2 separate regions of the Homo sapiens genome follow, and region 2 is linked to region 1. The links come from fine-mapping of genetic effects on plasma protein levels. A gene starts in region 1. The other region holds a variant in brackets. All regions are shown on one strand. Distances are from middle to middle. Region 1 holds the start of GLCE (glucuronic acid epimerase). Region 2 overlaps PAQR5 (progestin and adipoQ receptor family member 5).

Region 1 (5,373 bases):
AAGCCAAGAAATGTGTCCACCTGGAGGTGACTGTACCCCTTCAGACCTCACATCAGGTACCCAGGAGCCAGTATTCCCTGCCCAAATGGCTCTGAGCCACTTCCAGAGCCTGCATAGGCTTCTCCCCTAGATCCTGAGATATGCACCCCTGGACCTGTGGAATAGCCAAGAAATGACTGTTTTGGAGGGGAGAAAGTGAAGACAGAGCTTGGACATGTGGGCTAGTGCGTTCATGGAGTGGAGGGTACCTGGCACTGTAGGGCTGAAGGGGCCATGGGAAGCAAAGGGTAAAGGCTGCTCCATGTGGGGAGCAGTTCTCTCTGACCTGCCTTGTTCCAGCAAGGAGCTCTGAGAAGTCTCAGAATTCTCAATTCAAACTGGGTCTTCCAAGTTGTTATGAAAGTACATTTGTCAAGGTGAAAGGATATAATGCTTTTAGTACTCCATTTGTTAGCTTTTTAACTTTCACATATTTAGACATTTGGTATGTGGGTCTCCATGTGTAGCCTTCTCATGGTCCCTACAAATATTAAAATTGGTCCCGGCTCCCCATTTAATATGGAATCCAAGTCAAATCGGCTTGGCCTGATTTTTAAGGCCTTTTACTATTTGATTTTTCTCTAATCTTACCTCCCGCTACTCTCTGCAGGAATCTTCTATCTGTCAAACCTGTCGACCTACAGCCCAGGCTCAGCCCACATCCTTTTCTCTGTGCTCAGGTTCACATTATTTTTCTCCTCTGAAAGGCCTCCGTTTCTGCCTTGGATTTATATGGCCAACGTAGTGTTTCATTATGACCCAGCTCAAGCCTCACAGCCATGTCTCCTCCTCTGGACTCTTCTAACAGCTTTTGTCTCAGCCACTTATTGGCACTCAAAGTGTGCAACTGTGTGTGGCCATTTTTCATATTATGCACAAGGTGTGGCTATAAGATAAGGAGACATAAATATGCAAGTTTTCAAACCAGGACAAGGGACAGGGAAAAAAAAAAAAAAAAGAAGAGTTGCCAAAGAATCAGGAGAATGTAGTTAGGCAGCTACTAAGGGAAGAGATGTCAGCATTGTCAATAAGCTGAGAGAGGTCATGAGAAAGATACCCCAAAATAGACCATTATTCTAGAAGGTAAGAGGTCTTTTGTAACCATTGAAAGAATAGCAGATTGTGTGAGCAAAAGCAACGCTGTAGTGGGAAAAATAAGAGATGAGAAAGTGGAGACAACAAGTATACTTTTATTTATTTATTTAGAGACAGGGCCTCAATCTGTGGCCCAGGCTGGAGTGCAGTGGCTTGGTCACAGTACACTGCAGCCTCAACCTCCCACACTCAAGCGATCATCCCATCTCAGCACCCCGCCTCCCCCACCGCGAATAGCTGGGACTATAGGTGTGTGCCACCACACCCGGCTAGTTTTTTATTTTTTGCATATAGGGGAGCCTTATTATGTTCCCAGACTGGTTTCAAACTCCTGGCCTCAAGCAATCCTCCCACCTTGGCATCCCAAGGTGCTGGGATTACAGGCATGAGCCACAGTGCTCAGCAGCAAATATAATGTTTCCCAAGAAGTGTGATTCCTAGGAGAAAGGAGAAGGTAGTTTGGGTGGAAGAGATTGGGTGGCTTTGTTCTGTTCAAAGGATGGGCGAGACTATGTTTGTGGGAGAAAGATTTAGGTTAGAGGAAGAAATTAATAATGGGGAAAGAAAGAATAGCTGAATAAAATCTGGGAATGGCTGGGATCCAGGGCACAGGTGCAAGATTTAACCTTGAGGAGAAAGGGCACTTCTTGCTGTGGGTGAGGGAGTGAAGAGGGTAAGATGAATGAAGGTACAGGATAGGCATAATAATGAAGAGCCTGGATTTAAGGGTGAAGCCACTGGCTCACATTATAGAGGAAAGGCTAGGAAAGCCGAATTTTCTGGGGCCAGGTCCAGATTTAATATATTTAAGTATAACAGTCTTAATTCATTCCTTTCACCTTATTCAGTGCCCTGGGTGTGCCAAATACTACTGGGCACTGGGGTCTACAAAGGTACGACTTTTCATGTAATGTTGGAATTTGTTATGTTGGTAACTCGAGATTTGCATATATTTAACAGTCTTAATTCATTCCTTTCACATTATTCAGTGCCCTGGGTGTGCCAAATACTACTGGGCACTGGGGTCTATAAAGGTACGACTTTTCATTAATTTTGGAATTTGTTATGTTGGTAACTCGAGATTTGCTTTTCATTCTTCTGGAAGGCTGTATGTAGAAATAAATACAGTCATCAGACGAGTTCTTTGTCAGACCAGATGTCCTGGGTTGGGGTTTGGAAAACATGGGCATCTTAACAATGGTGCCCTGTTTGAGGTGGAGAGGGAGGAGAGGCCCAAATCGGGGAAAGGAATTAAATGGAGGTTTAGACGCGGGTAACCGGAGTGGGTGGGCCTTCAACCTGGAAGATGGGAATCCCCAGCGCACTTCGGGCAGCGCTGTAACCAAGGGTAACCGCACCTCGGTTTACACCGGTGTGAAGACCAGCCTCTTCCCCAAACCAGGTGTATCTACGGCGGCCTAGCAGGACCACACACAAGCCAAGCACGTCACGTCATTCGAGCTACCTTACCGCGAAAGTCCACTGCCTCCTACTACTTCTGGTCACTACTACCTTTGCTCACAGTTTATTAAGGAGGAGCGGAGAAGAAGAGGGGCGGAGAAGGGGCGGGGAGAATCACCTTTCCTTTTTTACAATTGGTCGTAGTAGACTCCGAGTCCTGCCGCCCGTCCTGCAGCCGACAGGCTGCCAGGACTGTCACTCGAGGAGCTGCCGCTACCGCCCCCCGCCGTGGCCCCGCCCCTTGCCGTGGCTGGGATCTCGCGGGAAGAGCTGCGGGCACGGCGGTGGCTCGGTCTCCCGGCTGCGCGCGGAGCGGGAGGGCTCTCCTCACACAAGCGCTTCCTTGCCGAGAGGCTGGAGCTGCGGCACCGCAGGCCTGAGCCACCCCTTCTCTGCTGTCTCCTTCTCTTCCTCAGGGCTCCCGTGTCTGCTCGCCCTCCGACGCTGCTCAGGTTAGAAAGCCCGGAGCGCGTCTCCGCTGAGGAGCGGTCGGGGAGCGGGGACACGGAGCAGCCGGAGCAGGCGGGCTCCTGACGGGGGCGGCTCTGGGGGCTGCGCGGCGCTGCCTGGTGGGCGCGAGGCTTGGCGGGGTTTGGGAGTCCGGGGGGCGAGGAGGCGGTGCAGTGGGATCCGGGCGCGGGCGCCCAAGGGCGGTGTAGCGGGTGCCGGAGCTCCCGAGGTGAGGGGGCAATGTATTAGGGATCCTGGGGGCTCTTCCGGCTTGGGGTAGGGGTGGGTGGCGGCACACGGGGTCCTAGGTCTTTGACGTCGAGGGAGATTTATCAGGGTCTTGAGCTTCTTGGAGGTGGTGTAGCGGGGTTCCGGGACAAGGGGTCTTTTTACCCGGGTCCCGAGCTCTTTGGGGCAGAGAATGCAGTTTAGCAAGGTTTACACCGGTGTAAACCTTGTCTCTGGAGGCAGATCATCGGGGTCTTGGGGGTTCTTTGAGCGGGCGTGGGCGTCCGTTTCGCATTGCTGGGATGAAGAAGCAGTGTGTCCGGGTTCTGGGGAGAGGGGTCTGTTCATCGGTGTCTCCGGGTGAGAGAGCGATGTATCCGTTCCGCTGGGGCCGGGGCCGCCTTGGGGGGTTGTTGGGGGCTGAGGGTGTGTAGCGGCGACCAGCGTCTGGCCGGGGTTTCTGCTTTGCCCGGAGCGGGGCGGTAACTTGGCATGGTCTCCAGTCTTTTGGGGGCGACGGGGCGAGTTAGCTGGCCCCCGGGCAGTCTCTCGGGGTGGGCGCGGCTCCGCAGGCGCTGGGTCCGCTGAGGGCGGGAGAGGGCTTTGGTGCTACCGCGCAGGCTGGGCAGCATCCTGAAACGTTTTTGTTCAGGTCTCCTTCTCTCTGGATGAGATTTACTCAATGCTTAGTTGGAGGATTGATCGGTGTTGTTGCCTAGTTGAAGAAGCAGTGCGTTTGTTCTGCAGTTTTCTTTTCTCTGCCCCGGGATCCCTGTGGGGGCGCGCTGGTCTCGCTGGAGCTCCGGGAGCTAGAGTGGCAGCACCTTAGGTGGGCGTTTGGTCTGCAGGTTCTTTAGGAGGCCGGTGTCCGCAGGTTGAGCGTGGATACAGCTCCTGAGCAACTGGAATCTGTTGAGGGTGGGGAAGACTGATTTTGGCTTGCTTTCCTAGGTGGTGGTCTGCTTTGCTCATCCTGCATGATTAGATCTGTTCTGAAGTCTTGCCTGAGTGAATGTTAGGCAGAGTCGGATAGTGCAGGGAAGCGTGTTCTGTCTGGCTTCTTTCTGTCCTTTGAAAAGCATTTGTAGAGAGGGATAACGTCAAATTCAGCCTCCAGAAAACAATGGAATTTGAAATCCCAAAGCTAGAACTCTGCAAAAACGTTTTCTGTGACCTGTAAGGATGGTTAATCGAGCTTTTTTAGAGAATTCTGCTTAACAGTTTCATTGTATTGTAAAAGTGTATTTAGCCTTGGATATTACAGAGGTTTTGGTAACTAGCGTAGGCGTAGGTGGGATTTAAATAAAATGACTTGTATGTATGTGTATTGGTTAAAAAAAAAAACAGCGTATAGGTGAGAAAGCCTATGTGTTTGCCTGACATTTCTTTTGGTTAGTTACTCTATCACAGAGGCCTGTATATGAAAGTTAATGTGGCAGGCAGTGAAGTCCGTACTCAGAGCTGTTCTGTAAATATGTAATCTGGGGTTAACAGACAAATTTGAGTATACCAAAGCAAATAATTTTGCCTGCCTTAGTCTTTTTCTTCGTGTCAGTTTTTTTTTTTTCTTGTTTTTTGGTTTGTTTCTTTTGAAACAGGGACTTATTCCGCCTTCCAGGCTAGGTTGTAGCATCGCTACCATGGCTCACTGCAGCCTCGACCTCCAAAGCTCAAGCAGCCCTCCCAGTTCAGCTTCCCATCCCCACCCCCAGTAGAGGAGCTGGAACTACATGCATGTGCCACCACGCCTCACTAATTTTATTTATTTATTTATTCAATTAATTAAAGACAAGGTCTTGCGCTGTTGCCCAGTCTGGTCTTGAACTCCTGGCCTCAAGTGATCCTTCAGCCTCAGCTTCCCAAAGTACTGGGATTTAGAGGCGTGAGTCACCATGCCAGGCCTCTTAGATACAATTTTTTTTAAAAGATGTCATTTTTTCTGATCTTAGAACCAGACAGATTAGGGATAATGTACTTAATTTTGGAATTTTACATCATTTTGAAAAACAAAGGAATCCCGCACAGCAATATTTAAGACTTTGAAGGGTTTAAAATAAGTTTTGTTGTTGTTGTTATTCAGACCAAAATACCTGGTTGACA
Region 2 (5,373 bases), 250 kb after region 1:
CCAGCTACTGTGGAGGGTGATGTGGGAGGATTGCTTGAACCCAGGAGTTGGATGCTGCAGTGAGCTATGATTGCGCCATTGCGCTCCAGACTGGGCAACAGGGCAAGACCCTGCCTCAAAAAAAAAAAAAAAAGAATTTGTAATTGTTGGTAGGATGTTATGGGAAATTTAGAGGTCTTCTGAGTATAAAGTGGTTTAAATATTTGGTCTGCTGAAGTCTTTCTGGAAGTGTTGTTCCCCCTGCTGCCCCGCCCAGTAGAAACTTGCTCATATGAGAGGTTCTGAGGTAGGTGCGGTGTAGTAGAATGGCATTGTCAGATATGTTCAAGAAACCCTTCATTTGACACTATTTTGTACCTTATGGTACCCTTTAACATTTTTTAATTAAAAAAAATATTTTTTGAGACAGGGTCTTGTTCTGTTGCCCAGGCTGGAGTGTAGTGTTGCAATCTTGGCTCACTGCAACCTCTGCCTGACAGGCTTCAGTGATCTTTCCACCTCAGCCTCCTGAGTAGCTGGGACTACAGGTGCATGCCACCAAGCCTGGCTAACTTTTTGTAGAGATAGGGTTTTGCCATGCTGCCCAGGCTGGCTTAGAATTCCTGAATTCAAGTGATTTGTCTGCCTCAGGCTCCCAAAGTGCTGGGATTACAGGCATGAGCCACACTGCACCCAGTCCATGCTACCCTTTTTATATGAAACACCTATTAACACGGTACAACAACACTTCAAAACATATTATTTGAATTTCGGCCTCTGATTTTCTAGTCAACAATCCATTAAGGCAAAGACCTGTTTCCAAACTCAGATGTTCTCCAACTTACACTAATGTCTGGTTTTCTTGAACTATGTGAGAGAAAAAAATAAACAGAATTTATTTATTATCATAAAGTCATCCTGTTTGCCACTTAATTTGGTTATGTTTTATCTACCACACTGCAAATATGTTAATTCACCATGAGAAACAGATCCCTGTACACATGTGTATCAGTAAATCATTCAATGAATAGTTAGTGCTTAGGATGTATAGAATGGCCACTGTCCTAGGAACTGGGGATACACAAGTGAAAAAAACCTGCAATGTCCCTCCCTAATGAAGCTAGTGTTCTGGTTGGGCAGGCAGACAGGATATATAGATGAATCCAGATAATAAGTGCTGTAAAGAAACTAAGCCTAGTAGGGCATGTGAATTGATGGTCACTCTGATAAGCTGACATTTGAGGAAGACTTGATGGGCAAAAAGGAGCCAGCCTTGTCAGCTTGTCGGGGGAAGGGATTGCAGGTTGAGCTAAGTAGAGGGGTCCCAAGGCTGGCAGGTACTTGTTCTACTGGAAGGATGTTAACTCCAGAAGATATCTGGATGACTTGATTTTTGAAGAATTCTGAGATTTTCCTGATTTTTTTTCCCTTGAGAAATTGCCTATAGGGCTTTCCTATGTCTCTTGGTACTTGTATGGAATGTGTCAACTCATAAGAAATTAACTTCAGACAGTTGCCACGCTCATTCTCTTCATGCTAAGCAACAGATTTCTGAAACAGGCTGAATTTTTTTGCCTCCTCCAGAACACAGAAGGAAAGGCCCTCAAAGATCATTTAATTCAGCCCTTTTAAAATTTGTTCGATGATGTATAATGCAGATTCTCAGGCCCAAACATACTGACACAGACTACCCACAGTGGGGGAGGTGATCCTGTAGTTTCAAATTTTTAGCTAAAGCTGTAGGTAATTTTTAATATAAGGGAGTTCAGAAGCACTGATATAGTCCAACCATTTTTAAATACAATTTCAGACTTAGAAAAATGTTGCAAAATAGTGCAAAGAATTCCCAGGTACTTTTCACCTTTTCTCCTTTCCTCCCTTTTCCAACAGTGAGAAAGCTGACTGCCATTAGCCACAATATGTTTTATTTTATTTTATTTATTTTATTTTTTTTTGAGACGAAGTCTCACTCTGTTGCCCGGGCTGGAGAGCAGTGGCACGATGTTGGCTCACTGCAACCTCTGCCTCCCATGTTCAAGCGATTCTGCCTCAGCCTCCTGAGTAGCTGGGATTACAGGCGCGTGGCACAATGCCTGGCTAATTTTTGCATTTTTAGTAGAGACAGGGTTTCATCATGTTGGCCAGGCTGGTCTCGAATTCCCGACCTCAAGTGATAGACCTGCCTCAGCTTCCCAACATGCTGGGATTACAGGCATGAGCCACCTCACCCAGCCCATGATACATTTTATCTGCTCAATCCTAGAATGTACAGAATGTTGTTTCAGAATTACCAACTAATGTCTGTGCCTACTAATTAGAATTCAAAACGTTTCAAGTTTTTTTTTTTTGTCTTGACCCTGAGGGCAAGCTTGATTCTAAATAGTCACAGTTACCTGGGTTATTTCCCCCTTTCTGTGTATGTTATTTATTTGAAATATAGTTCAAGTCATTTGTTTCTTTTTGTGTAAATTTTACAGTCCCCCAACTCCCC[A/AACAC]ACACACACACACACACACACACACACACACACACACACATCCCCAGGTTGATTTTATTAATTTGTGTTTTCTGTATGTAAACATTAACATCTAACCATTCATGTTACAAATGGCCTGGCGAGAGAGATTCATGGCCTGGGAACCTGAGACAATGTTTCTAAGGCCACTGAGTGACCAGCAGGGCCTGGGAGGGAACAGTGTGCGGAGCATGTCCAAGATCCCAAGGCAGTGCTGTCTCCATTTTACCACCTCCCCTCAAACACTCGGGGCTTCAGCAGTTTCTGGTCATTGGTGTTTACTGGGTTCCCACAGCTGGACTTGCTTATCTGGGTGTTTGGATTAATATATGATTTCGAATTTGTGTAGTGTCAGCCCCTCTTCAATGATTTGGATAAGACTCGCCTGGTCCAATTTAACAGTTTCTAATAAAGTTAAACTTACCGTAAGACCCACAATCCCACCCAAGAGAAATAAAAACACACCTACATAAAGACTTTTACACAAATAATTATACCAGTTTCATAATCTCCAGAAAGTAGAAACAACCTAAATGTCCAACTGGTGAATGAATAAATTGTCCTGCATTCATACAGTGGAATAGACTCAGCAACAAAAAGGGAACAAATTACTGGTACATGCAACACATTGATGAATATCAAAGCATTATGCTGAGTGAAAGAAAAGACATTCTGGAAAAGGCAAAAGTATAGGGAAGAAAATCAGAAAAGTCGTTGCCAAGGCCTGGGAGTAGGGGCAGCCCAGAGAATTTTCCACTGTGATGGAAATATACGTTTGATTGTGGTTACAGCACACTATATATTTGTCAAATACACATAACGATACAACTAAAAAGGGTCCATTTTACTGTATGTAAATTATACCTAAAATACTTGACTTTAGAAAGAAAAAAGCCCCTCAGTTCTCTTCTCCCCACCCTCCTACGCGCACTCCTGATCTGGATCTCTAATTCTATGGTAAAATGCAAATCTTTTAATGGCTATAGGTAGCCCTTTGCTATTTTTGAATAGAAAAATGATGTAATTATTTGGTAGTTTTAAGGAAATTAATAAGCCAGAGAACTTTAATACAGAAGTGAGGGAGGAAGAAGAAACTGGCCTGAAGAGAAGCTGGAGGTGGTGCGATGTAACTGGGTCCTCAACTGGAGCGTTCTTTGAAGGGATGATTCATTCATCCCTTCAAGCCATGTATGGGGCACCTGCACTGCTAGGCACTGGGCATGCAACGATGCCATCTAGTGAGGCTGTGGGGATAAGCCAGTAGAGGAGACAGGAATGAACAGTGACTGCCAATTGGAATGTGAGTGCTGAAACAAGTCAACAGGTGCAGTGAGTGGGAAAGGGCAGTTTTGGGGGCGTGGGGGCTGTACCACGGGGCCCAGTATCCACAGCAGGGTAGCTGGCAGATCTGCAGAGAACTGAAGGCAAGGCATTGTCAGAGGAAAGGAGGGAGGAGAGCGTGACAGCACAGAGAATGGCGTGTGAGCCCAGCGTGTTCAGGGCACTGCAGTTCAACATGACTAGAGGGGACAGGGGGCAGTGATGGGTGATGAGCCCCAGAGGAAGCGTCTCAGGGCCCTGTGGTGGGTCTCCAACAATGGGGAACCACTGCAGAGTTTCATATAGGTATGTGACATAATCAGATCCATGATTTAGAGATGAGCAAAATGGAAACTGAATTGGAAAGTGGCAGCAGAGAGGCCTGTTAGGAGACTGCTGTCTTTATCAGACAAGAGAAGATGGTGGCTGAGGAGACAGAGAAAAGTGGAGCAGTTTGGAGGTTTGGCTACTTAGTAGGTAGAACTGTTAAGATTTAGTGATTGAATATTGAGACAGAAGAAGAGAGAAAAGCTAACAATGTTGCTTTAGACTCTGGCTTGGTGGATGCCATCCACTGAGAGGGAGCAAGTTTGGGAGAAGAGATTAGAATGTGTTAGATGTGAGATGCTTGTGGGATATCGAAGTGGAGAATCCAGAAGACAGCTGGATATATGGCTCTGGAGCTCAGAAGAGCAAACATGAATGGGATGTGAAGCCATATGAGTGCTTGAGAGTGCCTAGGGAAAAGGCACACCTAGTGACCAGCTCTAAACCCTGAGCCCCAACATTTAAGGGAGAAAAAAAGAACTCACAAAGGAGACTGAGAAAGAAGGGCTAGACAGCTAGGAGAAAAAATAAAGGCATGGGAAGAAAGGAATGGGCAACATTTTTTAGTGTTGTTAAGAAGCCAAGTAAGACAAAAGTCAAATAGATTTAGCATCAAGGAAGTGGTAATTTTGGTGACAAGAGTTCCAATGGAGTCTGAGGTAGAAGCTAAACTGAAGAGCAACTAGGATATAAGTAGTCAGCAACCAAGCCCAATTCCTAAATGATAAAAATTCCAAACTCTAGGCCAGGTGCGGTGGCTCACACTTGTAATCCTAGCACTTTGGGAGGCTGAGGCAGGTGGATCACTTGAGGTCAGAAGTTCAAGACCAGCCTGGCTGAGGCAGGAGAATTGCTTGAACCCCGGAGGCGGAAGCTGCAGTGAGCCGAGATTGCGCCACTGCACTCCAGCCTGCGTGACAGACTCCGTCTCAAAAAACAAAACAAAACAAACAAACCAACAAAATACCAAACTCTAGCTTGACAACAAAGTCCTAATCATTCAAAGACTTCAACATAGGAAGCAAAGCAATAAAAGCACTAGGAAACAAAAAATGAGAAATAAAATAAAAAACTCAGAATGGATGTATTTTTCCAGTATGACACAAAACAGAAGCCATAAAAGAAAAGACGGATTAATCTGTCTACCTGAAATTTTTTCCAAGCTGTCACAAAACATATACAAATAAAAATAACCAAAATGTGAAAAATAAAAGTATTTAAACTCGTATTTTGGATGA

Evidence for each region. PIP is the chance, under the fine-mapping model, that this variant and not a neighbour inherited with it causes the effect. Sun 2018 read protein levels with aptamers (SomaScan).
Region 2: its variant is fine-mapped to the plasma level of the GLCE protein (Sun 2018, PIP 0.95).

What each region holds. Positions count from the first base shown.
Region 1 is chr15:69,157,711-69,163,083 of GRCh38, forward strand. GLCE (glucuronic acid epimerase) reads left to right here and starts at 2,925. Exons shown (of 5, transcript NM_015554.3): 1 at 2,925-3,047. It also overlaps the pseudogene LOC100421574. RefSeq lists an enhancer at 2,587-3,087 and silencers at 2,785-2,994, 3,195-3,304.
Region 2 is chr15:69,406,753-69,412,125 of GRCh38, forward strand. PAQR5 (progestin and adipoQ receptor family member 5) reads left to right here. Exons shown (of 9, transcript NM_017705.4): 9 at 1-1,028. All of the region lies in intron 1 of KIF23-AS1 (KIF23 and PAQR5 antisense RNA 1), which reads right to left. Among named protein-coding and RNA genes, the nearest start is that of KIF23, 4.9 kb to the right of the region's middle. The variant A/AACAC (reference allele first, on the strand shown) is at 2,471.